Homo sapiens: one gene and its partners. The protein of the gene in region 5 purifies or fractionates together with the protein of the main gene of each other region. This does not show direct contact. Each region holds a gene or a part of one and is shown on either strand. Other genes may lie near its edges.

Region 1 (4,603 bases), on a different chromosome or scaffold from region 5:
GAAACAAGAATTCGGCTTTGTAGAATCAGGAACTGCTGGTGAAATAGTACTTATGATACTTTTGCTGTATACAGTCACCTCTCCGTATCTGTGGGTTCCGCATACGTGGATTCAATCAACCATAGGTCAGAAATATTTGGGAAAAAAATAGAAGGTTGCATCTGTATTAAACATGTACAGACTTTCATTCTCTAAACAATACAGTATAACAACTGTTTATGTAGCATTACATTGTTACAGGTATTCAAGTCCTCCAGAAGTTATTTAAAGTACAGGGGAAGATGTATATAGGTTATATACAAATGCAGTGCCATTTGCATAAGGGACTTGAGTATCTGCAGATTTTTGTATACTCAGTTAGTCCTGGAACCAATTTCCCATGCATACTAAGGGATGACTGTATTTAAATGAAAAATCAGCTCAGCTCTAAGACAGAGAACTTAGGTAGATACTGTTTGAAAATTGCATTAATGTAAACATTGATACTTTTAAAGTGCTGTTTGGTCACTTTTTTAAACTTCTTTTGTCTGTATTGACTGCAGTCTTTTGCTTTCTGGTATTTGAGACTGTACACAAGTCTGCACTATAATTCAGATCCCATGTAGAGGTAGGATTGCCAGATGGTGGACTATGAACCCTGGTGAATCCTAACCATAAGGAAACATTCAGAGGATATCTCACAGAACAAGGTAGAGCAAAGACATTTTAAATAAAGTCCCAGGCTGGACGGGGTGGCTCCTGCCTTGTAATCCCAATGCTTTGAGAGGCCGAGGTGGAAGCGTTATTTGAGTCCACGAGTTTGAGACCAGTCTGGGCTACATAGTGAGACCCTGTCCTACAAAAAATAAGAGAAAGTCCATTTTGGTACGAGGAGGCTACTGTCACTTTATTAGTATAATTGTTTAATCTGTACTACTTTAAAACCAAGTTTATATTTTCACTTCTTTTTCAGGTAGGTGTAAAAGTTGGTGTCCGAACCAGGGGCTGTAATGGCCTTTCTTATACTCTAGAATATACAAAGACAAAAGGAGATTCTGATGAAGAAGTTATTCAAGATGGTGAGTTTTTAACAAACATTTTTTGGGCACATTGTTTTGCCTAAAATTATTAGCCTTGCACAGCACAAAGTAAAAAATAAGGATAGTAGCAGGAATTATGTAAATAATGCTCACTGTGTGTGTAGGTGTTGTTTGATGGAATTTCATGTATTAACTGATTTATACACAATGCTGAATGTGGGTGGTACCATATTATCCCTGTTTTTCTGATGAAGAAACTGAGGCACAGAGGGGTTAAATAGTTTAAGGTCATAATAAGTGGCCTAGTAAAATTCTTTCCAGAGACTGCTCTTAGTAACTAATTGATAAATTATTATATAAGCTTGTTTTAACTATGAAAGATCATCGTTGTGTCCAAAAAGTGAACCAGCCTTAAACCTCACAGTGAACCAACAGTTTTTGTGTAAGCAGTAGTTTTATATCTGTGTCAAATAAGTACGAGTTGAGCATTCCAATCCAAAAATCTGAAATCTGAAATGCTCCCAAATTCAAAACTTTAAAAGTGGGTGCTGACATGACACTCAGAGGAAATGCTCATTGGAGCTTTTTGGATTTGGGATGCTCAAGCAGTAAGTATAATGCAGATACAGTCATACATCACTTAACATTGGAGATACATTCTGAGAAATGTGACGTTAGACAAATATCCTGGGGTGTACTTAGACAAACCTAGACGGTCTGAGAAATGTGACATTGGACAAATATCCTGGGGTGTACTTACACAAACCTAGATGGTAGAGCCTACCATATGCCTCAGCTAGATAATATAACCTGTTGCTCCTAGGCTACAAACCTGTACTGCACGTGACTGTGCTGAATACTGTGCACAGTTCTGACACAATGGTAAGTATTTGTGTAAACGTACCTAAACAAAGAAAAAGTATAGTGAAATTTCTTTTATTATTATTATTATTATTATACTTTAAGTTTTAGGGTACATGTGCACAATGTGCAGCTTAGTTACATATGTATACATGTGCCATGCTGGTGTGCTGCACCCATTAACTCATCATTTAGCATTAGGTATATCTCCTAATGCTATCCCTCCCCCCTCCCCCCGCCCCACAACAGTCCCCAGAGTGTGATGTTCCCTTCCTGTGTCCATGTGTTCTCATTGTTCAATTCCCATCTATGAGTGAGAACATGTGGTGTTTGGTTTTTTGTCCTTGCGATAGTTTACTGAGAATGATGATTTCCAATTTCATCCATGTCCCTACAAAGGACATGAACTCATCATTTTTTATGGCTGCATAGTATTCCATGGTGTATATGTGCCACATTTTCTTAATCCAGTCTATCACTGTTGGACATTTGGGTTGGTTCCAAGTCTTTGCTATTGTGAATAGTGCCACAGTAAACATACGTGTGCATGTGTCTTTATAGCAGCATGATTTGTAGTCCTTTGGGTATATACCCAGTAATGGGATGGCTGGGTCAAATGGTATTTCTAGTTCTAGATCCCTGAGGAATCGCCACACTGACTTCCACAATGGTTGAACTAGTTTACAGTCCCACCACCAGTGTAAAAGTGTTCCTATTTCTCCACATCCTCTCCAGCACCTGTTGTTTCCTGACTTTTTAATGATTGCCATTCTAACTGGTGTGAGATGGTATCTCATTGTGGTTTTGATTTGCATTTCTCTGATGGCCAGTGATGACGAGCATTTTTTCATGTGTCTTTTGGCTGCATAAATGTCTTCTTTTGAGAAGTGTCTGTTCATGTCCTTTGCCCACTTTTTGATGGGGTTGTTTGTTTTTTTCTTGTAAATTTGTTTGAGTTCATTGTAGATTCTGGATATTAGCCCTTTGTCAGATGAGTAGGTTGTGAAAATTTTCTCCCATTTTGTAGGTTGCCTGTTCACTCTGATGGTAGTTTCTTTTGCTGTGCAGAAGCTCTTTAGTTTAATTAGATCCCATTTGTCAATTTTGGCTTCTGTTGCCATTGCTTTTGGTGTTTTAGACATGAAGTCCTTTCCCATGCCTATGTCCTGAATGGTAATGCCTAGGTTTTCTTCTAGGGTTTTTATGGTTTTAGGTCTAACGTTTAAGTCTTTAATCCATCTTGAATTAATTTTGGTATAAGGTGTAAGGAAGGGATCCACTTTCAGCTTTCTGCATATGGCTAGCCAGTTTTCCCAGCACCATTTATTAAATAGAGAATCCTTTCCCCATTGCTTGTTTTTGTCAGGTTTGTCAAAGATCAGATAGTTGTAGATATGCGGCGTTATTTCTGAGGGCTCTGTTCTGTTCCATTGATCTATATCTCTGTTTTGGTACCAGTACCATGCTGTTTTGGTTACTGTAGCCTTGTAGTATAGTTTGAAGTCAAGTAGCGTGATGCCTCCAGCTTTGTTCTTTTGGCTTAGGATTGACTTGGCGATGCGGGTTTTTTTTTTGGTTCCATATGAACTTTAAAGTAGTTTTTTCCAATTCTGTGAAGAAAGTCATTGGTAGCTTGATGGGGATGGCATTGAATCTATAAATTACCTTGGGCAGTATGGCCATTTTCACGATATTGATTCTTCCTACCCATGAGCATGGAATGTTCTTCCATTTGTTTGTATCCTTTTTTATTTCATTGAGCAGTGGTTTGTAGTTCTCCTTGAAGAGGTCCTTCACGTCCTTTTTAAGTTGGATTCCTAAGTATTTTATTCTCTTTGAAGCAATTGTGAATGGGAGTTCACTCATGATTTGACTCTCTGTTTGTCTGTTATTGGTGTATAAGAATGCTTGTGATTTTTGTGCATTGATTTTGTATCCTGAGACTTTGCTGAAGTTGCTTATCAGCTTAAGAAAATTTTGTAAAAGATCAAATGTGGTCGGGTGTGTTAACACAAGCCTGTTGTCCCAGCTACTCAGGAGACTGAGGCAGGAGGATTCCTTGAGTGTAGGAGTTCAAGAATGTAGTGCACTGGCCAGGCGTGGTGGCTCACCTGTGTAATCCCAGCACTTTGGGAGGCCGAGGTGGGTGGATCATGAGGTCAGGAGTTCACGACCAGCCTGGCCAACATGGTGAAACCCCATCTCTACTAAAAATACAAAAAATTAACTGGGTGTGGTGGCACACGCCTGTAGTCCCAGCTACTGGGAGGCTGAGGCAGGAGAATCGCTTGAACCCCAGGAGGCGGAGGTTGCAGTGAGCCGAGACCATGCCATTGCACTCCAACCTGGGTGAAAAAGTGAGACTCTGTCTCAAAAAAGAAAAAAAGACATCATAGTGCACTGTGTTCTTACCTGTGAATAGCCACTGCCCTTAAGCCTGGGCAACATAGCGAGACCTCCATCTCTTAAAAAAAAGAAAAAAAAAGGAAGAAGAAGAAGAAAATAAAACATGGTACACCTGTTTGTGGCAGTTACCATGCATGGAACTTGCAGGACTGGAAGTTGTCCGCGTGAGTCAGTGAGTGAGTAGGGAGTGATAAGTGAATGTGAAAGCCTAGGACGTTCCTCCGTAGTACTATAGACCTTATAAACCTTGTACACTTAGTCTTCAATAATAAATTAACCTTAGTTTACTGAAACTTTTTTACTTTGTAAGCTTTGGG
Region 2 (4,603 bases), on a different chromosome or scaffold from region 5:
ACATATAATCTCACTTACAGACATGTATCACATGCATTGTATTCTAAGTGCTTTTGAAGCCTGAATGAGAAAAACAATTTAATCACACTAAATGGAAACAGCAGGCAAAAAAAAAACACCCACACATTAAGATTCTACTGGAATCTGAAGTTAGGAATAAAAAGATAAGCAGCTAATATATGTCAAGCACTGTTCTAAACTCACTCCCAAGATCTACAAATCTGACCTAGATTTTCATGGTAGAAACGGACCTAGTTATATTTTCCTAGACCAATAAAAGAGTAGATATTACTTGCCTCTGCGTAAAAGATAACCCAAGTCTAAACATTTGTATAAAAGATAACTTACATCGAAACACTGAGTATGGTTCAATGAACTGCTCACCTATTTTCCCTGTATCGGGAGCTTGACTGGGGAGGACTGTGATTTAGCCTTCTAGAAAACTTCTTCTCTCGCTCTTCCTCCTTAGTGATCTGATTAAAAAAAAAAAAAAAAGTGTACAAGTTTAGTAATTATTCCACTGTTAAATAGCCTTAGATAGGGCTGGGCACAGTGGTTCATGCCTGTAATGCCAGCACTTTGGGAGGCTGAGGCGGGTGGTTCACGAAGTCGGAAGTTCGACACCAGCCTGGCCAACATGGTGAAACCCTGTCTCTACTAAAAATACAAAGATTAGCTGGGCACAGTGGCAGGGGCCTGTAATCCCAGCTACTCTGGAGGCTGAGGAAAGAGAATCGCTTGAACCTGGCAGGCAGAGGTTGCAGTGAGCTGAGATCGCGCCAGTGCACACTCCAGCCTGGGCGACAGAGTGAGGCTCTGCCTCAAAACAAACAAACAAACAAAAAAAAGCCTTAGACACATTACTGCTTTAATGACTTTATTAACATTAACATTTAATTAACATTAAATAAAATTTAATTAACATTAAAATTAGTTTATATAACGTAGAAGCAAAATTGTCATCTTCTAAAATTATCCAAACAAAGTAAATTTCTCTACTAAGTATAATCATTTAACTATAATGAAATGATTACATTGGTGAGAAAACATTTTAAGCAAGTATGCTCATTTAACATAATTAATGGAAATCCAATTTTATTCCTCTTTCAAAAGTCTAACATATATTCATGTTTTGGTTTCGTGGACTTGGTGTGGTACCAAACACATCAAGGAATATAGGAGAATACATTAGAACTCACCAAGTCATAAATACATACACACACACAAACATATACATGTTTATATATATAAATATATATTTACATATTATATATATTTATGTATCATATTGTAATTTATTATATATTTTATATTATATATAATTATATGATATATATTATAATTATATGATATATATTTATAATAAATATTTTATATAAATATATTATATATTATATAAATATAAATATATTTATAATATTTTATATGCTATATAAAATATATCTTATATATTACATATTTTATATAATATATAAGATATATCTTATATATTACATATTTTATATAATATATAAGATATATCTTATATATTACATATTTTATATAATATATAAGATATATCTTATATATTACATATTTTATATAATATATAAGATATATCTTATATATTACATATTTTATATAATATATAAGATATATCTTATATATTACATATTTTATATAATATATAAGATATATCTTATATATTATATATTTTATGTATTATATATTTATATAAATTTTTATATAAATATATAAAATATATAAAAATATATAAATATATATAAATATGTATATGTTTATGTGTGTATGTATTTATGACTTGGTGAGTTCTAATGTATTTATATATTTATATATAAATATATAAAAATATAAATAAATATATATAAATATAAAATATATATTATATATAAATAAAATATATAAATATATAATATATATTATATATAAATATATATAATATATATTATATACTATATATAAATAAAATATAAATATATATTATATATTATATATAAATATATATAATATGTATAAATATACAAATATATATAATATGTATAAATATACTTATTTATATATATTACTATATATATTTATATAATATATTTATATATTACTATATATATTTATATAATATATTTATATATTACTATATATATTTATATAGTATATTTATATATTATATATTACTATATATATTTATATAGTCTATTTATATATTTATATATTATATATTACTATATATAATAATATATAATATTTTATATATATATATTACTATATATAATAATATATAATATTTTATATATATATATCTGGGAAAACAATATATAAGGTGAAATAGTTCTCCAGTTTCTCACAGCAGCATGACAGCTATATATTTCTGTTTCCTACAAGGTGCCTCCATTCACATTATATAGCTACTAGAAAGCAACCTTGGAAAATATTCTCAGTGCTACTTTCTCCAGACTATATTGTTGAGAATAATGGTCCTCAACAACAGGAACGACAGGAATCACTGTTTTTCTAGGTAATTAGAAAAAGGGACTTAGAGGTTGAACAAATTCAGGAAATATCGTGCAAGTGGCTTCTATAAATAAGATAGGGCTCAAGATTTTGTGTTACTGAGAACCATAAGATATTCTCATGCAGGTAGTCTACGCACAGGGTACACATGTCCCAGTTTATGCCAGCTGTTCCAGCATCCTTTTGATAAGGGCTTCTGACTGTCAGAATGTACCACTTTATGCTGGGCACAGTGGCTCACACCTATAATCCCAGCACTTTTAAAGGCAGAGGTGGGTGGATCACTTGAGGTCAGCAGTTTAAGACCAGCCTGGCCAACACGCTGAAATATCATCTCTACTAAAAATACAAAAATTAGCTGGGCATGGTGGCACGCGCCTGTAATCCCAAAAGGGGATTACAGGAGGGATACTTGGGAGGCTGAGAGAGGAGAATTGCTTGAACCCAGGAGGCAGAGGTTGCAGTGAGCCACTATGGGGCCACGACACTCCAGCCTGGGCAATAGACTAAGACTCCGTCTCAAAAAACAAACAAAAAAAAGTGTGCCACTTTAGATGAGAAATCAAATGGAAATCCTATTAACAGACCAAACTAGGAGAAATAATCTTTAAAGCATTCTTTCAACAGTTTGCCTTTTTAAATTCAAGTACTTTCGTACTCTTTCCACCTATTCCAGCTCTCCTCCCAGACCAGACAAAAAACCGGGTACTAATACGACCCTTCTGATGCACTCTTTCCCTTCTATTTCCTCAATGCACTTTTGCGAGTTATCTAACAGATCACCATATTCCACAGTACATGCCCATCTGCAAACTTTTAGTATAGCCACAGCATTTTAAACGTAGATTGCCATCTGGCATTTCAACAATTCTGAAAGATCAGGGATAAGTATCTCCCACAATTGGTTGAAAAAACAGGAAGTATTATTACATCAATAGATAATAAGACTAAGGCTTTGCTACTAACTCGATTTAGGGGAAGACTACTCAAGCCAAGGGACTGTGATTTACTCAAGATTTTCTGAGAATTAAAGCATACATATAATATATATATTATATATATTTTATACATTTTTTATATACTATATATTTATATTTTTATATATTTATATGATATATATAAATATATATTTATATATATCATATAAATATATATTTATATTTTAAAAATAAATAATATATATTATTCATATTTATATATATTATATATATATATTTTTTTTTTGAGACGGAGTTTAGCTCTTGTCACACAGGCTGGAGTGCAATGGCATGGTCTCAGCTCACTACAACCTCTGCCTCCCAGGTTCAAGCGATTCTCCTGTCTCAGCTTCTCGAGTAACTGGGATTACAGGCACCTGCCACCATGCCTGGCTAATTTTTGTTTTTAGTAGCGACAGGGTTTCACCATATTGGCCAAGCTGGTCTTGAACTCCTGACCTAAGGTGATCCACCCGCCTCAGCCTCCCAAAGTGCTGGAATTACAGGCGAGAGCCACAGTGCCCAGCCAAAGTATAATTTTTCACAGCAAAAATCTGAAACCAAACCAAAGTTCCACCAGTAGGCAAAACTTGAATAAACCATTGCATATCTCTATGTTGCATAAGCAATTGCCAACACAATATACACCGTCCCTTTCTTCCTAACAGAACCCTTATACTGTTAGGTATGAAATAGGTTCAGTTATAAATTACATTTCTGGTCTTCCCAGGCAGATAAAACTGATTGGGATGTTACATGTGGGTATGTGTATATGAAAATATACAAATATACATGTGTGTAAATATATTCAGATAGAGATATAAATATATTTGAGATTACATATTATAATATATATTTTATTGCATAATAAAATGTATTATTTATATGTAATCTGGAAAAAGCATAAAAGGAGAAAAAAAGGTCACAACATCAACATCTCTTACAATCTCAAAAATGACAGCAGCTACCATTTACTGAGAACCTACCATGTGCCACATGTGAAAAGTAAAATAATGTATATAAAGCACTTGATTGGTGCTTTATATACATTATTTTACTTATTCCTCACAAGAACCTTTAATATTTCCATTTCGCAGCTGAGTAAAATGAGGCTCAGA
Region 3 (4,603 bases), on a different chromosome or scaffold from region 5:
ATTGTGTAGATTGTCTTTTTACTTTCCTGATGTTATTGTTTGAAACAGAGAGGTTAATTTTTTTTTTTTTTTTTGAGACAGAGTTTTGCTCTTGTTGCCCAGGCTGGAGTGCAATGGCGTGATCTCGGCTCACTGCAGTCTCCACCTTCCGGGTTCAGGTGATTCTCCTGCCTCAGCCTCCCGAGTAGCTGGGACTACAGGCATGCGCCACCACGCCTGGCTAATTTTGTATTTTTGGTAGAGACCGGGTTTCTCCATGTTGGTCAGGCTGGTCTCGAACGCCCAGCTTCAGGTGATCCGGCCACCTCGGCCTCCCAAAGTGCTGGGATTACAGGCATGAGCCACCGCGTCCAGCCACAGAGAGGTTAATTTTGATGAAGTCCAATTTATCTAAATTTTTTTCATTACTCATGCTTTTGGTGCCATATCTAAGAATCCATTGCAAAATTTGAGGTCATTAAGATTTGCTCCTAGGTTTTTTTCTAAAGGGTTTATAGTTTTAGCTCATATTTAGGTGGTTGATCCACTTTGAGTTAATTTTAGTATAGGGTATAAGGTAGGTATCCAACTCCATTTTTTTTAACATGCAGCTATACATTTGTCCTAGCACCATTTATTAGAAAGACTTTTCTTTCTTCATTGCAAGGCCTTGCCACCCTTGTCAAAAATCAATTGACCATAGACACTTTTGGATTTATTTCCGGACGTTCAAGTCTGTTCCACTGATCTGTATGTCTGTCCTTATGTCAATACCACATTGTCTTGATCACTGCTGCTGTGTTATTTCTTCTTTAAATGCTTGGTGGAATTAACCATTGAAAGCATCTGGGCTTGGCACTTTCTGTTTTGGTAGGTTGTTCATTATTGATTACATTTCTTTAATAGATACAGACTTATTCAAGTTATCTAATTCTCCTTGGGTAAATTTTGATAGATGGTGTCTTTCAAGGAATTCATCTAAGTTATCCAAACTTGTGAGCCTAGACTTATTCATAATATTTCTTTATTATTGTTTTAACGTCCATGAGATCGGTAGTGATAGCCACTCTTTAATTTCTCATATTAGTAATCAATTTTGTTGACCTTTTCAAAAAAACAGCTTTTGGTTTTGTTGATTTTCTCTATTGATTTTTGGTTTTCAATTTTACTACTTTCTGAGCTAATTTTTGTTATTTCTTTGCTTACTTTGGATTTAATTTGCTCTTCTTTTACTAGTTTCCTAAGGTAGAAACTTAGATTACGATTTGAAGTCTTTCTCCTTTTCTGCATATGCACTTACTGCTATACCTTTTCCTCTAAGCATTGTTTTTGTTGCATCCCACAAATGTTGATACGTTGTATGTGCATTTTCATTTAGTTCAGAATATTTTTAAATTTCTCCTGGGACTTCTTTGACCCATGTGTTATTTAGATGTGTGTTGTTCACTCTCCAAATATATTGGGATTTTCCAGTTATCATTGTTTTATTGATTTGTGGTTTAATACCACTATGACCCAAGAGCATACTTTATATTAGTTCTAGTCTTTTAAATTTGTTAAGGTGTCTTTTATGGCTCAGAATGTGGTCTACCTTGGTGAACGTTTCGTGTAAGCTTGAGAAGAATGTGTATTCTGCTGTCGTTGGATGAGATATTCTGTTTGATCCAGTTGACTGATGGTACCTTTCAGTTTAAGTATATGCATAATTACTAACTTTCTGCCAGCTGGATGTGTTAATTACTGATGGGTATTGAAATCTCTATAATAGTGAGTGGATTTATCTATTTCTCCTTGCATTTCTATCCGTGTTTGCCACATTGTGTTTTGATACTCTGTTGTTAGATGCATATGTATTAAATATTGTTATGCCTTCTTGGAGAATTGACACCTTTTTCATTATCTTATGCCCACTTAATCCCTGGTAATGTTCCTTGCCAAATTCGACTTTGTCTGAAATTAGTATAGCTACTCCAGCTTTCTTTTGTTTAGTGTTTACACATTGTATCTTTTGCCATTCCTTTACTTTTAATCTATCTGTGCCTTTTTTTTTCCCCCCCAAAGTCAGGGTCTGGCTGTGTCTCCCAGGCTGGAGTGCAGTGGCACAATCATAGCTCACTGTAACACCAAACTCCTGGACTGAAGCAATCCGACCATCTCAGCCTCCCAAGTAGCTAGGACTATAGGCATGTGGCTATTTTTAAAACAATTTTTTTAGAGATAGGGGTCTCAGTCGTGCTGTGTTGCCCAAGCTGATCTCATACTCCTGACCTCAAGTAGTCCTCCCACCTCAGCCTCTGCTGAGGATTACAGACACGAGCCACCAGAACACTTTAGGTATTTATGTCTCTCTCTGCTTGCTCTTATGCTCTCTGAAGAGAAATCCAAATTAATTCTTATTGTTCCCCTATATAGTTAAGGTGCTTTTTTTTCATCTGGCTTCTTTCAAGATTTTCTCTTCACTTTTGATTTTCTGCAGTTTGAATATGCTTCCCAGATTTGGGGCTTGGTATCTGTCAGTTTTGGAAAATTCTCAGCCATTATTACTTCAAATATTTATTTTTCTCTTTTTCTTCCTTCTGGTATTCCCATTATGTGGATGTTATACCTTCTCCAATTTTCCTGTAATACTTGAATATTCTGTTCTACTTTTTCTTTCTTTTTCCTCTTTTATTGCCCCAGCTTGGGAAGTTTCTGTTGACCTATCTTCAAACTCACTGATTCTGTCCTTGGCTGCATCCAGTTTACTGATAACTGTTAAAGGCGTTCTTCATTTCTCTTATGGTGTTTTTTGATTTCTAGTATTTCTTTTTTTTCCTTTTTTTTTTTTTTTTTTTTTAGAATTTTTATCTGTGTTTAATTTACCCATCTTTTCTTGCATGGTGTCCACTTTTCCCAGCTCTGATCCTGTTAATCAGCTATTTAATTAATTAGTTTAGAAATGAGGTCTTGTGACTGGGTGCGGAGGCTCACACCTGTAATCTCACACTTTGGGAGGACTAGGTGGGCAGATCACTTGAGGCTAGGAGTTCGACACCAGCCTGGCCAACATGGCGAAACCCCATCTCTACTAAAAAAACAAAAATTAGCTGGGCATGGTGGCACACACCCATAATCCCAGCTACTCCAGAGGCCAAGGCAGAAGAATTGCTTGAATCTGGGAGGTGGAGGTTGCAGTGAGTTGTGATTGCATGCCACTGCACTCCAGCCTGGGTAACAGAGCGAGACTCAAAAAAGAAAACCCCAAAAAACCCCAAACAAACAGTAAAAAACAAGAAATGAGGCGTTGCTTTGTTGCCCAGGCTAGAGTGCAGTGGCTTTTCACAGGTATGATAATAGTGCACTGTAGCCCCAAACTCCTGCACTCCAGTGATCCTCCTCCCTCAGCCTCCTGAGTATAGCTGGAACTACAGTCACATACCATCGCACCTGGCTTAATCATTGTTATTTTAATTTCTGGTCTGCTAACTCTAAAATCTCTGCCATATCTGAATCCAGTTCTGATGTTTGTTTTGTTTCTTCAAACTTTTGTATTTTGCCTGTTAGCATGCCTTGTCATTTTTTTGGTTGAGGGCTATATATGATATGATATATTGGATAGGCCAGGCACAGTGGCTTACTCCTGTCATCCCAGCACTTTTGGAGGCCAACGTCTGGGGTTGCTTGAGCCTAGGAGTTTGAGACCAGCCTAACCAACATGGCAAAACCCCATCTCTACAAAAAATATCAACATTAGCTGGGCATGGTGGCACACACCTGTAGTCCCAGCTACCAGGGAGGATGAGGTGGGAGGATCGCTTGAGCCCAGGAGGTCAAGGCTGCTCGAGCCGTCAGCATGCCACTGCACTCCAGCCTGAGCAACAGAGCGAGACAGTGTCTCAAAAAATTTTACAAATTTAAGATAATATTGGATAAAAAGAATTAAATAGGCCTTTAGAGTGAGATTTTATGTTTATCTGAGTAGGAGTTCGGCTATGATTATTGTTTGTTGTAGCCGTAGGTATTAGAGGTTAAAATTTCCTCTAGTGTGCTTATTTTTGTCTCCCCCATTGTTGGCTCCAGTGGCTTGTTCCTGGGCTTATGTTCCTGGAAAGCTGTAATTGTCAGTATCCACCTTTCTCTCCAGTTTTGGAGGCAGCAGTTTGCCCTGTGACCTGAATTCTCTGATGGATCTAAGAATAATTATGGATTTTCAGATTGTTCAGCATTTTTCGTGCTATGAGGACAGACGGGTGGCACTTCCAGGCTGTTTTCGTCTTGGACCAGAAACCAGAATTTAGAGAGAATAGTCAGCTTTTGAGATTTGTTCTAACCCCAAGAGGGCTCTGTCCTGCTAGCTTTTTCTGGTTATTTCTGGCAAATTAGCCAGCCTACAATTTAGCCTGTATCTCCGCTGAGTCTACCAGTCTCCTCCCATTTGCCTTTCATCACAAACTCCACAGATTTTGTTAGTGCTCCTAGGCCTTAACTTCTCCACACTCTGTTGCAAATAAAATTAGTTTTTCTGGAAAGAGCCACAGAGCTATCTCTTTTATGGCCTGCTTCTCCCCTCCTGCACAGTTTTTGAACTAAGGCTCTTTACCTGGTTGTGGGAGTCAATGCCATGCTTCTCTCTGAGTGACTCCCC
Region 4 (4,603 bases), on a different chromosome or scaffold from region 5:
TCTAACTGTGGCATTAAGACTTGTTTAATGTTCTTCATAAAGGATTAATGAGTTCAGACTTTTAAAATAGGTAGCCCAGTAAGGAATCAGAGTTTAGGCCAGAAGATCAGGACATCTAATCCTAATTCTGCCTGAAGACTTGCTCTGTGACCTGGGGCAAGACACTTCACTCAATTCCTCAAAAACACCCCCTGTAAAATGATGATAGAGATCACCCACCTACCTCACAGGGTTGTTGTGAGGATAAGTAGTAAGTTAACAGAAAGTTTCTGACTCGTAAAGTACTTAAGAATAATTATATACATACATACACTGAAAGGCTTAGTCGAGAGGAACCTTTTTGAAACAAATCCTAACAAATTTTGAGGGACTAAACTTGTAGTATTTTTTTTTATCTTTGCCATTAGTTGACTTGTAAAATTGGGAAAAGCTTTTTATAGTGTCTTTAGTACATACTTTGCACCAAGTTGGTATAACAATGTACATTTTGTGATTAATTTAGCACCATTTGTTGATGCCCATTGCGTAAGCGTCATAGAACAAAACCTGTCTTAATAGGTTAAGGACTTTAATGTAGATTGTGAATACATATGCAGGTGAACCTGTTTGATATATTCCTATGAGGATTTTGTTGTTTTTCCCTGACATGAGTATTTCCTTCTAGGTAGTTGTCCTGGGAACCCCTGCAGAAGAAGATGGTGGTGGCAAAATTGATTTAATTGAAGCAGGGGCTTTTACAAATCTTGATGTTGTTTTTATGGCCCACCCATCACAAGAGAATGCTGCTTATCTACCAGATATGGCTGAACATGAGTGAGTAATCAAGTTGAAGATAAACTTCTTAGGGGAACACAGGCTATAGAATACTTTTATGTCTAAACCAGAGACGAAAACTCCACATTTGTATATTTAAGAAGTAAATTGAAAGACAATAACAAGATGTCTTGATCTATGGAGTGACATTTGGCAAGCCTCTTCTAATTGAGATTCATTATGGTGTTCATAATTGGAGTATTAAAATAGTAGCACTTAGAAACCATAGGAATAACAAACATGTTGACAATTAAGTTCTCTTTTGAACTGTCAATAATCTGGTGTCTGGAAAACATCTGTCCTTTCATATGAAATTGTCTTTGCAACTGAATAGATTTGCGAGAGATCGTTCTATTAGCTATGGGAAGAAACCACACTTATCCATTTTATTTACTTTAATTTGAGTTCTTTGCAAAGAGGATAAATTATGTCCTGAGAGAGAATATGGAACATGAGTAGCTATGGTTTTTGTGGAACTTCTCATTCTGTGCTTTTCCGATTTGTCTGGTGCTGAAACCTTTTATTTGTCTTTCTTTATGTTGAAGAACTCACTTTTTAGTACCTAGGAGCACACATCATTGAAGTGGTTTGGATTTTTTATACCAGAAATTTCAACCATAGTAGTAACTATAGTAGTTAATGGTCCAGGCACAAGGAGCCAGTGCTCAGCTGCTTCAGCAAAACCATGTGTTTTCCTCAGAAGTAGCTCGGTACTGAGGGAATGATAGCAGAACCATCACAGCAGTGCTTCTAGATTGTACCCGGGTATCCCACCTCTTAGCACCTTACCAGGCCCTGTTTTCAAAGGGTGATCATTTTAACTATTAGGGTATCTTCCTTCTTATCACTGGAAATTGGTACTGTGGCAGTAGGAGGAATCTTTGAACTTTGGTTTCAAGGGTGGTGGTAAACTAGTCCATCTCTAGAAAACACTGGGGATTAGAAATCTCTGCCCTTGCCTTTGACTAGAAGGGGCCTGCATATGCAGGCAGGCTCTGCAGCTCATTACCCTTCTGGGACTTAAGGTTAGGCTTCGTGGTCTTGGTTCTGAAGTCAGCGCACTTGACCCCAGACCTTCTCCTAGTATCTGCCTTCTTAGCTTTCTCACTGATCATCTCTTTTTTTTTTTTTTTTTTTTTTTTTTGAGGCTGAGTCTCACTCAATTGCTCAGACTGGAGTGCAGTGGCACGATCTTGGCTCACTGCAACCTCCGCATCCCAGGTTCAAGTGATTCTCCTTCCTCAGCCTCCTGAGTAGCTGGGATTACAGGCGTGCGCCACCACGCCCAGCTAATTTTCATATTTTTAGTAGAGACAGGGTTTCACCGTATTGGTCAGGCTGGTCTTGAACTCCTAACCTCAAGTGATTCACCCACCTCGGCCTCCCAAAGTGCTGGGGTTACAGGCATGAGCCATCACACCTGGCCTTCATTGGTCATCTTTTAAGATAGAAAAGAGAGGTCAGGTGCAGTGGCTCACACCTGTAATCCCAGCACTTTGGGAGGCCAAGGCAGGTGGATCACCTGAGGTTAGGAGTTCGAGACCAGCCTGGCCAACTTGGCAAAACCCCATCTCTACTAAAAATACAAAAATTAGCCAGGCATGGTGGGCACCTGTAATCCCAGCTACTTGGGAGGCTGAGCCAGGAGAATTGCATGAACCTGGGAGGCGGAGGTTGCAGTGAGCCAAGATCGTGCCATTGCACTCCAGCCTGGCCACCAGACAAGTGAAACTCCATCTCAAAAAAAAAGAAAAAAAAAAAGAGAACAAGATCAAGAATTCATTTTTTTTTAAATTACTAATCCACTTTTCTTAAAAATTCTTTTTTTTTTTTTTCCGAGAGAGTCTCGTTTTGTCACCCAGGCTAGAGTACAGTGGCGCAATCTCAGCTCACTGCAGCTTCCGCCTCTGGGTTCAAGGGATTCTCCTGCCTCAGCCTCCCATGGACCTGGAATTACAGGCAAGCACCACCACACCCAGCTAATTTTTGTATTTTTAGTAGAGACAGGGTCACCATGTTGGCCAGGCTGGTCTTGAACTCCTGACCTCAAGTGATCCACCCGCCTTGGCCTCCCAAAGGGCTGGAATTACAGGCATGAGCCGCCAGGCCCAACCACAAATTTCTAATGAATAAGATAAAGCAATCCTGCTGACCACCTTTCCCAAATCCAGTCCTTTTTCTAGAGGTATGTATCCTTTTCAGAGTGTTTTTGGTGTACTTATGGGACATAAATAGAATCCTGTATAAATTGTGAAAGAAGGTTTTCCTCAAGTATTCCACTCAATATATTGTTCTGGCTTTTTAAAATTAAATAGTATGTCTTGAAAATAATTCCATATAATCCTTCTCGTTTTTATAATATTTATCACCAGTTGTGATGAAATTCCGGTTTTGCCAGGCCAGGTGGCTCACACCTGTAATCACAGCACTTAGGGACGTCAAGGCAGGAGAGTCTCTTGAGCCCAGGAGTTCATGACCAGCCTGGGCAACATGGTGAGAACCTGTCTCTACAAAAAAAAATAAAAAATTAACTGGGCATGGAGCACTCCTGTGGTCTCAGCTATTCATCTGTGGGAAGCTGAGGCAGAGGAGGATTGCTTGAACTTGGGAGGTGGTGACTGCAGTGAGCTGTGATCACGCCACTGCACTCCAGCCAGGGTGACAGAGGGAGATGAGTACCAAAAAAAAAAAAATTCATTTCAAGGTCATGGTGATAAGATATATATCAAGGAAATAACAATACAGTATCCTGAAATCTAATACGTGTTTGATGTTTTTACTTGATTTTTGTCCTGCTAATAGAATGTCTGGAATCAGTTGAGAAGAAATATCATAAGCATTCTAAGGACTCCTGAATCTAACCCATTAAAATAAGTCCAGATTGGTTTTCTAATCACCTAAATGTGGGTATTATTAATCAGGCTTAAAAAGTGTTATCAAAGCACGTCAATCACAGAGCTTTATAAGTAACTATTCAACACGCAATCCTTTCTCTAATCTTTTTTTTTTTAATTGTATTAGAGCAGTTAGACTGGTGTGAGAACTTAACAGTTTATTAAAATGTAAAATATTAGTGATGTAGGCATTTTGGAACATAATAAAATATTGGATATTGGTCAGGAACAACTGCTTTAATACTAGGGTATCTTGTGATAACATTGAATATAATCTGATTTTCAGAGGTTGTCTTAACCCACTTCAAATAGTAACTCCTTTCTGGCTTTCCTGACCTTCCACCTCTTAAGACAGAATTTCTGATTTTTTACAGACTTTTGATAATAGAATCATCACAATGCTGTGTAAAAACATACAGGATCCATTTTTTTTTTTTGTAATTTCAGCACCTGATACCATATTGCATGTTTGCATTAGATTGTGTATACATTTAATCTTTTCTCTTTTTCTCTCTTTTTTGGGAATGCTTTCTTTGTGTCAAGCACTATGTTACCTAATAATAAACTATAACTAACATAAATAAATTGCAGTGTTATTACTACAAATAATTTGCAAATCAAAAGTCCAGCAATGTGAATTAATTTTGAATAGTAGTTGGGTAATTCTGACTACCTGGATTTTCTTACTTTAGCAATAATAACAAAAGTAATTTCAAATGATTTTTTATTTCCTAGTGTGACTGTGAAATACTATGGAAAAGCATCTCATTCTGCTTCTTATCCCTGGGAAGGATTAAATGCATTAGATGCTGCTGTGCTGGCCTATAACAATCTGTCTGTGTTCAGACAGCAAATGAAACCAACCTGGAGAGTTCATGGTATGAATGTCAAATACC
Region 5 (3,515 bases):
CAGCCTTAGGACCTGCCCTGGGGACAGGCGCTGGTGGGGAGGCAACCACCACCTGTCATTGTCTTACAACTGTGGGCACCACTTGCCCTTAAACTTCTGGCTTCAAGGTCCTGCTATGACTCAGGCCCCAGCTGGCCCTGGAGCAAGAGCACTGCCCCCTCCTGTGCACTTGGCCTCAAACCGACCCAGGACAGGCTACACTGGGCTAATCTGACCCCTGAAGTGGGTCCTCTGCCTGGGTGTGTCCCCATGATCACCTAGGGGGCACTCGGTGATGGCTTCTGAAAAAATGTTGCTGCTCCATCCCATCCAGCCCTGCCTGTGCAACTTGTGCAAATTGAGGTCCCTTCCCAGATTGTTTCTCCACCTTAAAACCACACACAGCATTGTCTTTTCTCTTCCTCCCATTGTGAAGCTCCCGTTTGGGGGAGGTGTCAGCAGGTGCAAATGCAATTTGCAGGTATAACATTATTGTCATGTGATGGAAACTGACTTCCCAAATTCCTTGTGGTTCTGGAACCCACTGTCTTTGAAGTTTCTGGTCAGGGCTTCCGGCCCTGTAGTCAAGTTGGGAAGTTAAATTTACCAGGACACTGGGAGTGGGGTGGAATATTACTGGGTAACCAGGGCTGTTTATATAGGAAGGGATTAAATACCCAAAGGAAGCGGTGGTGCCTACCAGACAACAAAGACCCAGCTCCTCCCCTAGGCTACAAGCCCCCACCTTGTGGACCCCTACCACTATCCAAGAGGGAGGGAAGTAGCAGGGGCTAGAGGCTGGGGACTCCCAGAGCAGAGAAGGCAGAGGCTGGGGATTACAGCCAGAGAACAGGAAAGCGGCGGCCATTTTATTTTTCCCTGGGATGCTGGTGGCTGCGGGCCTGACGTGTCCCTGAGGCTTTCTTATGCTTCTGGTCCAGCACCTGGGCCATGTAGCTCTCCTGCTGCTTCTGGATCCGGAAGTCAGACATGTGATTCCTGCAACGGAGCCGGCTGGTGGTGGGCTGTGGACAGCCAAGGGTAGGTAGGGGCCAGAGGTCTGGCTCCCCAGTGTCATCAACAACCCCCAGCCGGGCCCAGACCCCTCACCTGAAGATCTGTTTCTGCTGGCTGATAACTTGCTGCAACTCTTTAATCTCATTCTCTTTGCCATTAAGTATATCTTCTTGCTTTATAATGTGAGACTCAATCTCTGTGGGGGAGAGAGGCAGGGAGGAGGGGTGGTTCCCATCCCAGGGCTCCTTCCTGAGATAAGGCATTCCCTCACGGGGCTTTTCAGAGCTTGGCTCCCCACCCAAGAGTTCTCCATGAAGAACTGCTAATACCTTAGTATGAATGAGTTTATTATGCAGTCTTGGGGGAGTGCAGTGTTTGAGGATTGTTGTCAATGACTTCACAAGTCTATTCTGGACCAGAGGACCCACATGAGGGCAGGAGAAGGTCCTTGGAGAGAAGTGGGCAGGCCTGACCAAAGGCTGGAAGATGAATGGCGCCTGCCCTCAACTCCTGCAGGTCTTTACAGATGTTGCCTCCTTGGAGAAACTCTCCCTCATCAAAAAATTACATTTCCCAGTACTTCCTGTTCCCTCTTCCTGCTTTCTCTTTTTTTTTTTTTTGTATTTGAGACTGAGTCTTGCTCTGTCGCCAGGCTGGAGTGCAGTGGCATGATCTTGGCTCACTGCAACCTCCACCTCCTGAGTTCAAGCAATTCTCCTGCCTCAGCCTCCCGAGTAGCTGGGATTACAGGCGCCTGCCACCACGCCCAGCTAATTTTTGTATTTTTAGTAGAGATGGGGTTTCACCATGTTGGCCAGGCTGGTCTCGAACTTCTGACCTCAGGTGATCCACCCACCTCAGCCTCCCAAAATGCTGGGATTACAGGCGTGAGCCACCATGCCCAACATCCTGCTTTATTTTTCTTAACACTTTTACCTAACATACCATATACTTTACTCATCTGTCTTCTCCGCTGCTGGGATGTAAGGTCCACAAGGACAAGGATCTTTGTTTTATTCACGGCTTTATCCCTAAGGCCTAAAACAGCACCTGGCACATAGTAGGTATACAAAAAGTATATTTGCAGACCGAATGAACGGGATGTCCCTGGGGGTTTAGGACTCAGAAAAAAGACCTAGTTCAGTCATCCCAGTCCAAACAAACTTCCCGAGGGCTGGCTGGATGCCCAGCCTTGTGCTAGGGCTTCAGGGGTGGTGGGAGAAGATGGGAGTTGCCTCGATTTTCAGACCTGTTTCCTCATTTCAAAGATGGGGAAAGAGACAGCCCTATCCCACAGTGGTCTGGGGAGGACCCAGTGAGATAGTGGTGGCAAAGCCTACCCCCAAATTAATCGTACATTTGAGGCAAAGATGACTTTCTGAGGCAGGAGGATGGCTTGAGCCCAGGAGTAAGAGACCAGTCTGGGCAACATAGTGAGACCTCGCCTCTACAAAACTAAAAAAAAAAAAAACAAAAAACTAGCTGGGCATGGTGTTGGAACATGCCTATAGTCCTGGCTACTTGCTGAGGCAAGAGGATCACTTGAGCTCAGGAGTTGGGGGCTGCAATGAGCTATGACTGTGCCCCTGCACTCCAGCCTGGGTGACAGAGCAAGACCCTGTCTCTAAATAATAAATAAATAAATAAATGATAATTTTTCTGTGTTGGATCAAAATCCAAGGAGGCTGTAGGGATCTGGGGGTGCTTCATTTACATAACTGCCCCACATGGCACCTTGGAAAATTCTGATTCCTACAGAAAGAAAATCCTACTGTCTTCAAAGGTTGGACAAGGGGCCAGGCACAGTGGCTCATGCCTGTAATCCCAGCACTTTGGGAGGCCAAGGCGGGTGGATCACCTGAGGTCAGGAGTTTGAGACCAGCCTGGCCAACATGGTAAAACCCCGTCTCTACTAAAAATACAAAAATTAGCTGGGTGTGGTGGCACATGCCTGTAATCCCAGCTACTTTGGAGGCTGTGGCAGAAGAATTGCTTGAACCCAGGAGACGGAGGTTGCAGTGAGCCGAGATCGTGCCATTGCACTTCAGCCTGGGTGACAGAGCGAGATTCCGCTTCAAAAAAAAAAAAGGCCAGGCGTGGTGGCTCACGCCTGTAATCCCAGCACTTTGGGAGGCCAAGGTGGGTGGATCACAAAGTCAGGAGATGGAGACCATCCTGGCTAACACGGTGAAACCTTGTCTCTACTAAAAATACAAAAAATTAGCCAGGTGTGGTGGCGGGCACCTATAGTCCCAGCTACCTGGGAGGCTGAGGCAGGAAGATGACGTGAACCTGAGAGGCGGAGCTTGCAGTGAGCCGAGATCTCGACACCGCACTCCAGCCTGGGCGGCAGAGCAAGACTCCATCTCAAAAAAAAAAAAAAAAAGGTTGGACAAGAATTAACTAGAACACAAACTCTGAAAATACAGAAATGTCTAAGCATTTAAGATTTCAAAAGAGAAGACCTGGTAAAAAGTGAAGGCACAGCATGGAAAAGAGGAGACAGGTGAAGGGAGAGA
Region 6 (4,603 bases), on a different chromosome or scaffold from region 5:
TCTATCTGGGCACATTTCTGTTAGCTTGAAGAATTCTCTTCAATATTTCTTTTAAAACAGGTAGGATACTAACCAGATTCTCTCAACTCTTTTTTTCTTTTGTCTAAAAACATCTTTATCTTACCATTTTTTTTAAAAAAAGAGATGGGGCCCTGCTGTGTTTCCCTGGCTGGAGTGCAGTGGCTATTCACAGCTTCAAAATTCTGGCCTCAAACAATCCTCCCACCCCAGCCTCCTGAGTAGCTGGGACTAGAGGGGCACACTGCTGAGCCCAGCTTGCCTTCATTTTTGAAGGATATTTTTCTGGGTAGAAAGCTCAAGGTTGACAGTTATTCCCATCTATCATTTGAATGCAATTCTATTCTGTTTTTTTTTTTTTTTTTTTGAGACAGAGTAAGACTGTCACCCAGCCTGGAGTGCAGTGGCACAATTTCATCTCAGTGCAACCTCCACCTTCCAGGTTCAAGTGATTCTCCTGCCTCAGCCTCCTTAGTAGCTAGGATCACAGGCACCCACCACCGCCCTTGGCTAAATTTTGTGTTTTTAGTAGAGATGGGGTTTCACCATGTTGGGGAATGGTACCAAACATGTAGGCTTTTATCGCTCACCTCCCTCCTACCATTCCCCCCAAGTCCCCAAAGTTCATTATATCATTCTTAGGCCTTTGCCTCCTCATAGTTTCTTAGCTCCCACTTATAAGTAAGACCATATGGTATTTGGTTTTCCATTCCTGAGTTACTTCACTTAGAATAATGGCCTCCAAGTTCATCCAAGTTGCTGCAAAAGCCTTTGTTTCGTTCCATTTTATGGCTGAGTAGTATTCCATGGTGTATGTATACCACATTTTCTTCATCCAGTTGTTGGTTGATGGGCATTTAGGTTGGCTCCATATTTTTGCAGTTGGTAGTGCTGCTATAAACATGTACGTGCAAGTATCTTTTTCATGTAATGACTTATTTTCCTTTGGGTAGGTATCCAGTGGTGGAATTGCTGGATCAAATGGTAGTTCTAATTTTAGTTCTTTTTTTTTTTTGGAGACAGAGTCTCGCTGTGTTGCCCAGGCTGGAGTGCAGTAGTGCGATCTCGGCTCACTGTAACTTCTGCCTCGCAGGTTCCAGTGATTCTCCTGCCTCAGCCTCCCGAGTAGCTGGGACTACAGGCGCACATCACTGCACCCAACTAATTTTTGTATTTTTGTTAGAGATGGGGTTTCACCATGTTGGTCAGGCTGGTTTCAAACTCCTGACCTTGGGATCTGCCTGCCTCGGCCTCCCAAAGTGCTGGGATTACAGGCATGAGCCACCACCCCCAGTCCTTTTTAGTTCTTTAAGGAATCTCCATACTGTTTTCCTTAGTGGTTGTACTAGTTTACATTCCCACCAGCAGTGTAAAAGAGTTCCCTTTTCACCATATTCACGCCAACATCTATTTTTCTTTTTTTATTTTTTAATTATGGCCATTCTTGCAGGAGTAAGGTGGTACCTTATTGTGGTTTTAATTTGCCTATGTATGATAATCAGTGATGAGCATTTTTTCTTATGTGTATTGGCCGCTTGTATATCTTCTTTTTTTTTTTAATTATACTTTAAGTTCTAGGGTACATGTGCACAACGTGCAGGTTTGTTACATACGTATACGTGTGCCATGTTAGTATGCTACACCCATTAACTTGTCATTTACATTAGGTATATCTCCTAATGCTATCCCTTCCCCCTCCCGCTGCCCCACAGCAGGCCCCGGTATGTGATGTTCCCCTTCCTGTGTCCAAGTGTTCTCACTGTTCAGTTCGCACCTATGAGTGAGAACATGCGGTGTTTGGTATTTTGTCCTTGTGATAGTTTACTGAGAATGATGGTCTCCACCTCCATCCATGTCCCTATAAAGGACACGAACTCATCATTTTTTATGGCTGCATAGTATTCCATGGTGTATATGTACCACATTTTCTTAATCCAGTCTATCATTGATGGACATTTGGGTTGGTTCCAAGTCTGCTGGGCGAAGGATATGAACAGACACTTCTCAAAAGAAGACATTTATGCAGCCAACAGACACATGAAAAAGTGCTCATCATCACTGGCCATCAGCAAAATGCAAATCAAAACCACAATGAGATACCGTCTCACACCAGTTAGAATGGTGATCATTAAAAAGTCAGAAAACAACAGATGCTGGAGAGGATGTGGAGAAATAGGAACACTTTTACACTGTTGGTGGGGCTGTAAACTAGTTCAACCATTGTGGAAGATAGTGTGGCGATTCCTCAAGGATCTAGAACTAGAAATACCATTTGACCCAGCCGTCCCATTACTGAGTATATACCCAAAGGATTATAAATCATGCTGCTATAAAGACACATGCACACGTATGTATAGCTTCCTTTGAGAATTGTCTCTTCATGTCCTTTGCCCACTTTGTGCTGGGATTATTTGTTTTTTTTTTCTTGCTGATTTGAGTTGTAGATTCTGGATATTAGTCCTTTGTTGGATGCATAGTTTGCAAATATTTTCTCCCACTCTGTGGGTTGTCTGTTTGCTCTGCTGATTATTTATTTTGCTATGCAGAAGCTTTTTAGTTTAATTAGGTCTCATTCATTTGTTTTTGTTTTTGTTGCATTTGCTTTTGGGTTCTTAGTCATGAATTCTTTACCTAAGCCAATGTCTTGAAGAGTTTTTTTGATGCTATCTTCTAGAATTTTTATGGTTTCTTAGATTTAAGTCTTTGATCCATCTTGAGTTGATTTTTGTATAAGGTGAGAAAGGAGGATTCCTGGCATCCATGAGGAATAGCATTTATTCCTGGATCTAAGTTTTGACTAATTAATGCTTTTAACATTTTAATTAATGTGTTTAACCTCAAATGGATTTATTGAAACCTTAAAATATATGCAAAAATTATATATGCTAAGATTTTTTTCCCCTATTTTTATGTTACGTCCTCTAGATTTGAATTTACGTTAAGTGAATTCCAAAGTTAGGAATTGAAATCAAATTCCTTTTTTTAGGCTTATGTTTTTATTTCCACAGGTCCTGCTCAATCTGGAATTTTGTCAGATCGTGAAGTGGTAAACCTCTTTCTTCATTTTACTGTCAACCCTAAACCCCGAGTTGAATACATTGACCGACCAAGATGCTGTCTCAGGGGAAAGGAATGCTGCATCAATAGATTCCAGCAAGTAGAAAGCCGCTGGGGTTACAGTGGGACGAGTGATCGAATCAGGTATCTGTTATATTGGGGATGCGGGGGTAGAGTGGGGGTAGCAGTTACCATTTGGCCTTTTTTATATATTATGGGAGATAATTAACCAACATTTCATTTTATACTTCATTTAATACACTTTTAAGTTAAGTTAATATAGGAGTCAAGAAGTCACTGAGGCATCCTGCCCTCCTCACTGATTTATGAGTGAGGGTGACTTCTTAAGAAAAAAATAGAGTAAGAAAGGATTGGGTTGGACCTTCTGTTACGTGATTTTTTTGTTTTTCCCCAAGATGGAGTCGCTCTGTCACTCAGGCTGGAGTGCAGTGGTGGGATCTCTCACACTGCAACCTCCGCCTTCTGGGTTCAAGCGATCCTCCCACCTCAGCCTCCTGAGTAACCTGTAAGGCATGCATCACCACGCCCAGCTAATCTTTTTGGATTTTTAGTAGAGACGGGGTTTCACCATGTTGTCCAGGCTGGTCTCGAACTACTGACCTCAAGTGATCCACCTGCTTCAGCCTTCCAAAGTGCTGGGGTTACAGGGGTGAGCCACCACGCCCAGCTGTTACATGATTTTTGTTTGGATCACCACTGCCAGTGGGCTGAGTTCTAGACCTTAATTGATCAAACGTTATTTTTACAGGCTTAGGGCTACAATTAATAAATGTAACCTTACTATGTTTAGTGTGAGTTTTTTCTTTGCATAGATGTTGCAGGGAAAGTATCTCAGTATACATTTATAAAAGCCTTGAGAAAAAAATCAAGAATCTTGAAAAATGCATGCGTATAATCCTGTTGAAGAAATTGTCTTTGCTGTACTGTGTTTCTTTAGGTTGAATGTCAAAATAGAATCAGTGCCGGTTTTCACAAAACATGACTTTTGGATTTTCATTTATTTAATAGCACTTCAGTATAAAACTGGAAATTAACAAGTTTGTTAAAACAGAAAAATCTGGTTGGATGTGGGACTATTATAAATCTTAAGTTAACATGGAAATTAAAAATGTACTTGTAGACTATTTAATAATAATTCACAATAACTATATGCAAAAATTATGGGATGAGGCCAAAGCTGCACACAAAGAAAAAGTAATAATTAACTACTTGTAGTAAATAGAGTAGAAATAAATGATTTAAGCATTCAGCCCAAGTAGCTAGAAAACAAATAGCAAAAGAACTATAAGAAAAGAGAAAGTAAATAGATAAATGTAGAAATTAATGAATTAGAAATAGTAGAATTCATAAATCCATAAGCTGGTTCCTTTAAAAGACCAATAAAATAAATAAACCTCTGGCAAAGGTAATAAACATTCACATTTAGAAGCAAAAATGGGAATATAATTATATGCTGACATTTTTATTTTAATTCTGGGTTTATTCTGTGCTAATAAATTGAACATGT
Region 7 (4,335 bases), on a different chromosome or scaffold from region 5:
TTAATCCCCAAGAAATTAATAGCTGTCGCATAAAAATATTCCTAGTTCTTGATTGAATTTAGTCCTCATGCAAGATATTATTTTATATTGAGGTTGCTAAATATTTATTAGTTGTGAAAATTAACACACCTGAGACTTTCATAATCTGTTAATTAAACTGAGTAAGTTTTGAATAGTTCAAATAAGTGAAATTTTCAATTTTTTTATTAGATTATTATTGAAGTGACAGAAATGTTGCATAATGCCAGTTTACTCATCGATGATATTGAAGACAACTCAAAACTCCGACGTGGCTTTCCAGTGGCCCACAGCATCTATGGAATCCCATCTGTCATCAATTCTGCCAATTACGTGTATTTCCTTGGCTTGGAGAAAGTCTTAACCCTTGATCACCCAGATGCAGTGAAGCTTTTTACCCGCCAGCTTTTGGAACTCCATCAGGGACAAGGCCTAGATATTTACTGGAGGGATAATTACACTTGTCCCACTGAAGAAGAATATAAAGCTATGGTGCTGCAGAAAACAGGTGGACTGTTTGGATTAGCAGTAGGTCTCATGCAGTTGTTCTCTGATTACAAAGAAGATTTAAAACCGCTACTTAATACACTTGGGCTCTTTTTCCAAATTAGGGATGATTATGCTAATCTACACTCCAAAGAATATAGTGAAAACAAAAGTTTTTGTGAAGATCTGACAGAGGGAAAGTTCTCATTTCCTACTATTCATGCTATTTGGTCAAGGCCTGAAAGCACCCAGGTGCAGAATATCTTGCGCCAGAGAACAGAAAACATAGATATAAAAAAATACTGTGTACATTATCTTGAGGATGTAGGTTCTTTTGAATACACTCGTAATACCCTTAAAGAGCTTGAAGCTAAAGCCTATAAACAGATTGATGCACGTGGTGGGAACCCTGAGCTAGTAGCCTTAGTAAAACACTTAAGTAAGATGTTCAAAGAAGAAAATGAATAATGTTAAGCCATTCTTGATTGGACCTCATAGCTTATTTTAGTTAATCTTTTTTTTGTCTTTTAGCCTTACCACCTTTTAAAAAATTTGTTATTCTCCAGAAACAGTAAATAGGTGAGTAGGGGTGGTGCAAGTGAATTCGTTTTCATTTAGAAGCCCCTCTGTACAGATAATCAAAATTCAAAGTTGAAAGAATCAAAAGCAGCCACAGTTATGTAGGTCTGATTTGAATGTCATAATTGCAGTGACAGGACATTGCCACCAACTCTATCCTACTACCATCAATGTTGTGTTTATTCCGTCAATAAAAAAGACTTGCTTCCAGGAATTTTTATCCATACACTTTCTAACTGTACTATCTGGGCAGTTCCAAGCCAGTTTCTATTAGCTAGCTGGACCAAAGACCACAAATCTCTTTTTTTCCTAAACGCTGCTGTAAGGAATATCTCACTTTTCCCCCCGGAAACACCCTCACTGAAGTCTTCTATGAAAAGGCTGATAATGGGCTGGGCGCGGTGGCTCACGCCTGTAATCCCAGCACTTTGGGAGGCCGAGGCGGGCAGATCACGAGGTCAGGAGATCGAGACCATCCTGACACGGTGAAACCCTGTCTCTACTAAAAATACAAAAAATTAGCTGGGCGTGGTGGTGGGCGCCTGTAGTCCCAGCTACTCGGGAGGCTGAGGCAGGAGAATGGTGTGAACCCAGGAGGCGGAGCTTGCAGTGAGCCGAGATAGTGCCTCTGCACTCCAGCCTGGGTGACAGAGCGAGACTCCGTCTCAAAAAAAAGGGCTGATAATGATAAACAGTGAGCACTCCGGTCCTTTTTCTTAGGTTTTCCTTTTTTCCTTCCTCTCCACCCCACAAGTTTTGCTTTTTAACCAAGGTGTCTCTGCTTGATGAAATTCACATGCTAGTCTAAATCTTTTTTTCTCCCTTGTAACATTTATGTGCCCCAAACTGGTTAGTATATGGGTACAGCATTCCCTTTCCAATTGGGAAGCGGAAAAAGAGAGTATGGGATATTTTAGAAGGGAGCCTTTGAACCTTATTATATTTCCCCATCATTGATAGTGACAATCTTAAAAGGGTTGTTTTCTTACCTTAAGTACAAAAGCATGGAAAAATGCGCTTTTCCTTCCCGCCCACATCACCACCCCGACTTGAAGACAGTAGGTGCTTGAATGGAAAGTGAGTAGGCATCTTTAATCGCCCTGATTAAAGGAAAGTGTTAGCCTGAGAGGGCCTGACTGAAAAGTAACCAAAGGCTTAATATCAAACACTAATTAGCTTTTTAGTGCCTTAACCCTGACCTGGTTACCAGTTTTCTGTAGTTTCTACACCCAAGCCACTGAAGTCATCTGTGGCCCAAGAGGTAGGACAAAAAAAAAAAAAAAAAAAGCTGATTTCAATATTTGATTTGTTGACATCCCAAAATGAAAGTTTTATGTTTCCCTTAGAAACATGTTTTGCTTGGTTCTATAGTATGTTACTTAGGATCTATTTACCATATATTTGTATGAGAAATCCTCACCCAAGCATTCAACCTAAATCTTTGAAAAGTTGGGTGCTGTCTTTAGTAACTTTTAAAATAGTTTAAATCTCCCATTTTAATAGTGATAAGGAAACCTGTTAAAATCATGGCTATTGATGTTATAGTATGGAAAGTTGAACTTTATGAACCCATACTTTTAAAAAGCATTTTTAAAAATCTAACACTGACTATAGAAACAAATTAAAATGTCTACCTTTAAGTATAAAAATTGCTTAAGTAGATTTGTTCCTTGCCTATCAAATTAATTTTGGCCTGGTGTTCTTCATTATTCATTTGTTAATTTTATCTTGCCTTTGTCAATAACAGAAATGTTTGTCATTGAATTGGGAATTTTTTTTTTTTTTTTTGAGACGGAGTTTCACTCTTGTTGCCCAGGCTGGAGTGCAATGGCGTGATCTCAGCTCACTGCAACCTCCACCTCCCGGGTTCAAGCGATTCTCCTGCCTCAGCCTCCTAAGTAGCTGGGATTACAGATGCCTGCCATGTTGCCTGGCTAATTTTTTTTTTTTTTTTTTTTTTAAGTAGAGATGGGGTTTCACCATGTTGGCCAGGCTGGTGTTGAACTTCTGACCTCAGGTGATCCAGCTGCCTCGGCCTCCCAAAGTACTGGGATTACAGGCATGAGCCACCGCACCCAGCCAAATTGGGGACTTTTAACAGTCATTTTACCTGTAGAATAATCAAAACTCTTCACTTGATCTGTAGTCATAGCTATTAACACAGAAAAATGAATGCCAGTTATGTTGCCATAAACCACCTTCTGAACTTGGCAAGATCTTAAAACCATCAACTGTTCTCTGTTCACTCTGTGAACTTCTTTCTACTTTACTTCCTTCTCTACCTCACCTGTACTCTATAGTCACTCACTTCAATGACACTTAAAGAGCATTCACTCTCAGATCACTTTTCTCCTTTCCTTGCCCATTCTTATCTTGCCAACTCCCAGTCCTGGATAAATCCAAACATCCACGTTCTTTGTGCATCCGTGTTGCTCAGTGCTGCTGGGGAACATTTTCACAACTGCTGTTGGAACCATTGTGAGTTTACACATTCCAGCCTCTGCAACGCCTTTATTTTCCATCTAATCTTTCCTAGCAGAGATTTCTATTTGTTTTGTTTTGGTTTGAGACAGAGTCTCGCTCTGTCTGGCAGGCTGGGGTGCAGTGGCACGATCTCAGCTCACTGCAACCTCCGCCTCCTGGGCTCAGGCAATTCTCCTGCGTCAGCCTCCCGAGTAGCTCAGATTACAGGCATGTGCCACCACGCTCAGCTAATTTTTGTATTTTTAGTAGAGACGGGGTTTCACCATGTTGGCCAGGCTAGTCTCAAACTCCTGACCTCAGGTAATCCTCCCGCCTCTGCCTCCCAAAATGCTGGGATTACAGGCGTGAGCCACCACGCCCGGTGTCAGAGATGTCTTATTAAAGATCCCCTTCTTCTCTTCTTCCTCTCTTCTCCCACTAAATAGAAACTCTCCTAACTTTCCTTCCCTCTACTTTAGGTCTGTCTTTACATAGTCTGCTATTTTCAAGAAGAGTTTGACCTGCCCTAGGTTCTCATGTGCTTGAATTTCCCCCTGTCTATTGAGGGCCTTGTCCCATTCCATCTTCCCTTCTAGATATCTCTCATCTAGATAATCTCAAGATCTATCCATTGATTCTTTTTTAATCAGTGTACTGAGAGGAAGAAAGAGGGCAAGGAAATACATACTTATGAAGTATCTTACCGGGTACTAGATACTTTACATGTTTTCCTCAAGCATTTACTGAGGAATGCCAGGGCCTTGAATACAGATCAAAGTACCTGGCTCT

Evidence for each region.
Region 1: the proteins of SPATA24 (region 5) and ISCA1 purify together in Homo sapiens (affinity purification with mass spectrometry; one large-scale study listed by BioGRID and IntAct). This does not show direct contact.
Region 2: the proteins of SPATA24 (region 5) and RBM26 purify together in Homo sapiens (affinity purification with mass spectrometry; one large-scale study listed by BioGRID and IntAct). This does not show direct contact.
Region 3: the proteins of SPATA24 (region 5) and DCAF17 purify together in Homo sapiens (affinity purification with mass spectrometry; 2 studies listed by BioGRID and IntAct, with this or other methods). This does not show direct contact.
Region 4: the proteins of SPATA24 (region 5) and PM20D2 purify together in Homo sapiens (affinity purification with mass spectrometry; one large-scale study listed by BioGRID and IntAct). This does not show direct contact.
Region 6: the proteins of SPATA24 (region 5) and BTBD1 purify together in Homo sapiens (affinity purification with mass spectrometry; 2 studies listed by BioGRID and IntAct, with this or other methods). This does not show direct contact.
Region 7: the proteins of SPATA24 (region 5) and GGPS1 purify together in Homo sapiens (affinity purification with mass spectrometry; 2 studies listed by BioGRID and IntAct, with this or other methods). This does not show direct contact.

The regions. Positions count from the first base shown.
Region 1 is NC_000009.12:86,268,462-86,273,064, reverse strand, and holds part of ISCA1 (iron-sulfur cluster assembly 1 homolog, mitochondrial precursor), read left to right. Parts: intron 1-952; coding exon 953-1,058; intron 1,059-4,603. UniProt on the Homo sapiens protein: Involved in the maturation of mitochondrial 4Fe-4S proteins functioning late in the iron-sulfur cluster assembly pathway. Probably involved in the binding of an intermediate of Fe/S cluster assembly.
Region 2 is NC_000013.11:79,371,458-79,376,060, forward strand, and holds part of RBM26 (RNA-binding protein 26), read right to left. Parts: intron 474-4,603; coding exon 385-473; intron 1-384. UniProt on the Homo sapiens protein: May be involved in the turnover of nuclear polyadenylated (pA+) RNA.
Region 3 is NC_000002.12:171,436,718-171,441,320, forward strand, and holds part of DCAF17 (DDB1- and CUL4-associated factor 17), read left to right. Parts: intron 1-4,603. UniProt on the Homo sapiens protein: May function as a substrate receptor for CUL4-DDB1 E3 ubiquitin-protein ligase complex.
Region 4 is NC_000006.12:89,148,601-89,153,203, forward strand, and holds part of PM20D2 (xaa-Arg dipeptidase), read left to right. Parts: exon of another isoform or gene 1-664; coding exon 665-813; intron 814-3,185; exon of another isoform or gene 3,186-3,306; intron 3,307-4,442; coding exon 4,443-4,585; exon of another isoform or gene 4,586-4,589; intron 4,590-4,603. UniProt on the Homo sapiens protein: Catalyzes the peptide bond hydrolysis in dipeptides having basic amino acids lysine, ornithine or arginine at C-terminus. Postulated to function in a metabolite repair mechanism by eliminating alternate dipeptide by-products formed during carnosine synthesis.
Region 5 is NC_000005.10:139,395,952-139,399,466, forward strand, and holds the end of SPATA24 (spermatogenesis-associated protein 24), read right to left. Parts: intron 1,476-3,515; coding exon of another isoform or gene 1,402-1,475; exon of another isoform or gene 1,327-1,401; intron 1,193-1,326; coding exon 1,090-1,192; intron 1,005-1,089; coding exon of another isoform or gene 979-1,004; coding exon 849-978; downstream 1-848. UniProt on the Homo sapiens protein: Binds DNA with high affinity but does not bind to TATA boxes. Synergises with GMNN and TBP in activation of TATA box-containing promoters and with GMNN and TBPL1 in activation of the NF1 TATA-less promoter.
Region 6 is NC_000015.10:83,028,752-83,033,354, reverse strand, and holds part of BTBD1 (BTB/POZ domain-containing protein 1), read left to right. Parts: intron 1-3,026; coding exon 3,027-3,219; intron 3,220-4,603.
Region 7 is NC_000001.11:235,341,801-235,346,135, forward strand, and holds the end of GGPS1 (geranylgeranyl pyrophosphate synthase), read left to right. Parts: intron 1-210; coding exon 211-972; 3' UTR 973-2,732; downstream 2,733-4,335. UniProt on the Homo sapiens protein: Catalyzes the trans-addition of the three molecules of IPP onto DMAPP to form geranylgeranyl pyrophosphate, an important precursor of carotenoids and geranylated proteins.